Linked DNA regions of Homo sapiens: region 2 is linked to region 1. The links come from fine-mapping of genetic effects on gene expression. A gene starts in region 1. The other region holds a variant in brackets. All regions are shown on one strand. Distances are from middle to middle.

Region 1 (2,908 bases):
GACAAAACCTCTCAGACACCGAGTTGTAGAAGGAAGGGCTTTATTCAGCTGGCAGCATCGGCAAGCTACTGCCTTAAAATCCGAGCTCCCCGAATGCACAATTTCTGTCCCTTTTAAGGGCTCCTCACAGCACTAAAGATTTCACATGAAAGGGTCGTGATTGATTTGAGCAAGTAGGTGGTACGTGACAGGGGCTGCATGCACCAGTGGTAAGAGAGAAACAGAACAGGGCAGGGAGTTTCACAACGTTCTTCTATACAATGTCTGGAATCTATGAATAACATCGGTTTCTAAGTTATGAGTTGATTTTTAGCTACTGGGTGTGAGGCCTCTGAGCCCAAGCCAAGCCATCGCATCCCCTGTGACTTGCACGTATACATCCAGATGGCCTGAAGTAACTGAAGATCCACAAAAGAAGTAAAAATAGCCTTAACTGATGACATTCCACCATTGTGATTTGTTTCTGCCCCACCCTAACTGATCAATGTACTTTGTAATCTCCCCCACCCTTAAGGTACTTTGTAATCTCCCCCAACCTTAAGAAGGTTCTTTGTAATTCTCCCTACCCTTGAGAATGTACTTCGTGAGATCCACCCCTGCCCGCAAAACATTGCTCTTAACTTCACCGCCTATCCCAAAACCTGTAAGAACTAATGATAATCCACCACCCTTTGCTTACTCTCTTTTCGGACTCAGCCCGCCTGCACCCAGGTGAAATAAACAGCCATGTTGCTCACACAAAGCCTGTTTGGTGGTCTCTTCACACACGTTTGGTGGTCTCTTCACACACATGAAACTGGGTTTAGGCCAGGCAGGCCCAGGCCTGGTTTCGGGCCTGGCGCCGGGCTGCCCGTCTTTGGTTTCACTTCCTTGTTGTTTCTTCTTAAAACAGGTACTGAGTATAAAACAATATAAAACAAAATGAGAGGGTCTCTCTCTCCCCCAGTCTCTGGGACAGAGCAGAGAGCAAGAACAAAATCGCTGTGCTCGTGGACTTTACATGCTAGGGCGGAGCAGGTCCTCAGAAAATCATCAAATGTACGTTAAATGTATAAGGTAAATGGTGATGAGTCTAAAGTGAATGGGGGGAATGGAAGAGAACGAAGGTAGGGAGAATGTACATTAAGGGAAAGGGAGGGTTGCAATTTTAGAAAAGGATGTCTGGGCAAGGGCTCCCTGAGAAGATGGCATTTGTACTATAGAAACACAGTATCTATTTTCCAGGCCCGTAATGAAGGTTTAATAAGAAAATGCATGGATTCGTAAAAAATCTTCAATAGGCCCCAAATGGACCTACAAGACCTCGACCCCAATGGATGAGGGAACGCTAACCACAGCAGAACGGTAATCGCGGCGAACGTTGGCACAGACGGAAAGTTGATCTGAACGGAAAGTTGGTCCGGGGGAAACATTAGTTATTGAGGAACGTTAATCCGGAACAAATCTTAGGCAGAAGCGGAACTTAGACCAGGACGCACAGTTACCATGGCAATGACGCGCGCCCTAAGGGCGGTGGCAGCGACGCAGAGAGACCTGGGAGGAGACAGAGGCAGGGCTTGCGACGGAAGTGGCCTCTCTGCTTCTGCAGGGCTGGGGAAGATGCTGCGTCCAGCGTTACCGTGGCTGTACCTTGGCCTCTGCAGCCTCCTGGTGGGGGAGGCAGAGGCCCCGAGCCCCGTGGATCCGCTGGAGCGGAGCCGGCCGTACGCGGTGCTGCGAGGGCAGAACCTGGGTGAGCGGCCCTCGGGCTGGCGGGCGGCGGGTAGTGCCTGAGCTTTCACTGCTCCGGGTGCTGGAGCCGGGCATGTACGGAGCGGACAGGGGATAGAGTGGGGAGATGGGTGAGTGCGGGGGGTGCAGGTGAGGCCCCTCAGGGGGCCCCGAGACTCCCTCTCCAAAAGCCTGGGGCAGAAGGCCTGAACTTTGCCTCTCAGCAAGTGCTCAATATGTGCCAGAACCTTCGCCTCCCAGGTTCAAGCAATTCTCCTGCCTCAGCCTGCCGAGTAGCTGGGATTACAGGCGCACACCACCACACTTGGCTAATTTTTGTATTTTTAGTAGAGATGGGGTTTCACTATGTTGGCCAGGCTGGTCTCAAGCCTGGCATGGTGTCCAGTAAGCTCTCAATATGTACTGCTTGCCCATGAATGAACTGCAATCGGGAGACCTGGGTCTCATTCTGGGTCCTCTCCTCTCTGGCAGTGTGGGCTCAGGCTAGGCAACAAGGCACATCATTTACCCCACCCCTCTTCTTTCCCAGAGGAGCCAGTATTTATTGCAAAAATGATAACAGTTTTTGAGCATTTCCTACATCCCATGTCTTGTGCTACGCACTTTGTATACGCGAATTCATTTGAGCCTTACAATAACTTAATGAGAAACGTACGGTTTGCAGCCCTTTTTTTTTCTTTTACAATAGTGTCTCCTCTGTCACCCAGGCTGGAGTGCTGTGGCACGATCTTGGCTCACTGCAGCCTCGGCCTCCTGGGTTTAAGTGATCCTGCCACCTCAGCATCCCGGGCGAGTAGCTGGGACTACAGGCGTGCACCACCACACCTGGCTCATTTTGTTGTTGTTGTTGTTTACTTTTTGTAGAGGTGGGGGTCTCGAACTCTTGGGCTCAAGCAATCCTCCTGCCTCGGCCTCCCAAAGTGTTGGGATTACAAGTGTGAGCCACCGCACCTGATGTTGCAGCTCTATTTTTCAGATAAGGAAAATGAAACTCAGAGAAGTGAAGTTATTTGCCCAAAGTTACATAGCTAGGAAATGATGAGGCCAATACTAGAACCTGTTTGGGGGCTTGAAACATAAGTTGTGGGAGGATATCTTCAACACACACACACGCTGCGTAAATATGTGTGTGTGCATGGCTTTGGCTTTGGAAGGAGTTCTGGAACTTAAAGCTTGG
Region 2 (2,908 bases), 210 kb after region 1:
TCATGCCCGGCTAATTTTTGTATTTTTTTTTTTAATTAGAGATGAGGTTTCACCGTGTTGGCCAGGCTGGTCTCAAACTCCTGGCCTCAAGTGATCCTTCCGCCTTGACCTCCCAAAGTGTTGGGATTACAGGCGGGAGCCACCGTGCCTGGCAGTAACTCTAGATTTAATATTTGGAGGAACTGCCAGACCGTTTTCCATAGCAGCCACTCCATTACACATTCCCACCAGCAGTGTGCGAAGATTCCAGCTTCTCCACTTCCTCATCCACACTTATGGTCTGTCTTTTTGAGATCATATTCTTTTTTTCTTTTTTTCCTAGACAGGGTCTCACTTTGTTGCTCAGGCTGGAGTGTAGCTGCCTGAACACAGCTCACTGCAGCCTTGACCTCCAGGGCTCAAGTGATTCTCCTGCCTTAGCCTCCCCAAATGCTATGATTACAGGTGTGTGCCGCCGCACCTGGCCAGGAAAATATTCCTGCTGGTCATGCTACACTGTAGAGTCTGCTGGGCTTGGGTTCAAATCTTACCAGTTGTGGGATGATCTCAGACAAGTGGCCTCTTTGTGTCATTATCTATAAAATGGTGGAAGAATTCCTCCTTTCCAGGCTGTCAAAAGATGAACTGAGTTAGTGGCAGGATCAGGACTGTGCCAACTGTAAAGTGAGGTGCACGTGTCTTGTTTTTATAACTGGGTACCCTGGGTATAAAGTCCCTGAGATCCTGACCTGTCTGGCTCACCAATCTCTCCCCAGCATCTGGCACTGGACCTGGCATACAGTAAGCACTTGGTAAATGCAGACCCTTGGCTGCTGCCCAGGAACCTTTCTTAGGGGAGGTAGCTGAGTCCACCTGGGGCAGTCCAGGAGCTACGTGGAGAGCAAGGCTGCGCCCCACATGTGGCTGCCACATGACTCACAGCCAATGCTGAGGGCCTTGAAAGTTTTTCCTTCCCTAAGAGGAAACATTATTTCTGGCTAGGCACAGTGGCTCATGCCTGTAATCCCAATGTTTTGAGAGGCCAGGTTATGAGGATCACTTGAGCACGGGAGTTTGAGACCAGCTTGGGCAGCATAGCGAGACCTCACCTGTACAAAAAATAAAATTTAAAAAGCCAGGCTTGGTGACACACACCTATAGTCCCAGCTATTCAGGAGGCTGAGGCAGGAGGATCGCTTGAACCTAGGAATTTGAGGCTGCAGTGAGCTATGAGCAGGCAACTGCACTACAGCCTGGGCTACAGAGCAATACCCTGTCTCTCTCTAAAAATAAAAAAAAAAAGATTAAAAATTAAACTTAAAAAGTATATT[C/A]ATATTGTTGTGTGACCCTCGTTCATCTCCAGAACTCTTTGCATCTTGCAAAACTGAAACCCTACGCCCAACAAACAGCAACCTCCCATTCTCCTCTCCCCCAGCTCCATCAACCAGGACTTTTTTTTTTTTTGAGATGGAGTCGCTCTCTGTTGCCCAGGCTGGAGTGCAGTGGCACGATCTCTGCTCACTGCAACCTCCCTCTCCCAGGTTCAAGCAATTCTGTCTCAGCCTCCCAGGTAGCTGGGATTACAGGTGCCCACCACCATGCCCAACTAATTTTTGTATTTTTAGTGGAGACGGGGTTTCATCATGTTGGCCAGGCTGGTCTCGAACTCCTGACCTCAGTTGATCTGCCCACTTCAGCCTCCCAAAGTGCTGGGATTACAGGCATGAGCCACTTCGCCTGACCCATCAACCAGTATTTTTAAAGCACCTACTAAGTGCCAGGTGCTAGACCTGTGGTCATGAACACGTTCCCTTGCTTCATGGACACTGGTACCCATTTTTTAGGTGAGGAAACTGAGGCACAGAGAGAGAGGGAGGCTCTTGCCCACAGCTCCCACCACAGCTCCTTCTCCCATCAGCGGCAGGGCAGGATTTGAACCCCAGTGTCTGGTGCAGAGGCCAAGCTCCAGCTGCTTAGCCCAAGATGAGTCACTTCCCTACATGGGGGCCTCAGTTGCCCCATCTGTGAAATGGGGATCAGGAAAGAGCTGGGTTAGTGATGATGATGCTGAGCGCTCAGGCCCCTTCCCTCTGAGCTTAGAGAAGAGGAGGTCGCCATCCCTGGCCCCATCTCCCCCAGTTCCAGTCCCCAACATCAGCTGCCTTATGGCTGGAATCACCCTTGCCATTTTCTTTAAATTGAGACAGGCCTTTCTGCAGAAATGGGTCCCAGACTCACTCCTCCACTCTCAACCTGGCCCAGCCCCAGCCCCAGCCCTGAGGGCCCCCAGCAGATAGCTGTCTGTCAGGGAGGTGTGAGGGGCCCTGTGTTTACCTTCCTCTCCACTGCCAGACATCTGCCTGTTTACTCCGGACCCTCAGAGGGTTCTCTTTCCCACCCCAACCCCCACCATGGAGGGAGCAGCTTTTGGAGAGGCCATACTCCTCTCCAAGCCTCAGTTTCCCACTTGCAAAATGGGTAGAGCAAACCCTACCTCACAGCCTGTTCTCCCTCTCATCCCCTAGGCTTCTGTGCTCAGTGAGTTAATTATTAGGGTTTGTTTCTTTGTAAATGTTTCACGCTGGAGGTGAACACATCACTCCTATTCAGGGGTACACACACACACACACTCTCTCTCTCTCTCTTTCGCCTCCCCACCCAGCAATTCTAAAATTTCACTTTCCAGCTGTTGGACCTCAGGAGAGATGCTGCTATTTTCAAGCTGAGGAGGAAGGAGCTACCCCACAGTCCCTGAGTCAGCTCAATTTAGTGAAAACACTAATGATGAAAATGGCATGGCTCTGGGCCGGGCACGGCGGCTCACACCTGTAATCCCAGCACTTTGGGAGGCCAAAGTGGGTGGATCAACTGAGGTCAGGGGTTCAAGACCAGCCTGGCCAACATGGTGAAACCCTGTCTCTACTAAAAA

The links. PIP is the estimated chance that this variant, and not a neighbour inherited with it, causes the effect.
Region 2: its variant is the best candidate, but not a certain one, in a credible set for the expression of C12orf76 in anterior cingulate cortex (GTEx, PIP 0.85).

The regions. Positions count from the first base shown.
Region 1 is chr12:110,047,187-110,050,094 of GRCh38, reverse strand. It overlaps C12orf76 (chromosome 12 open reading frame 76), which reads left to right and starts at 1,573. Exons shown (of 2, transcript NM_001389625.1): 1 at 1,573-1,732. The coding sequence starts at 1,600. RefSeq lists an enhancer at 625-884 and a silencer at 1,805-1,864.
Region 2 is chr12:109,835,043-109,837,950 of GRCh38, reverse strand. No RefSeq gene overlaps it. Among named protein-coding and RNA genes, the nearest start is that of TRPV4, 3.1 kb to the right of the region's middle. The variant C/A (reference allele first, on the strand shown) is at 1,311.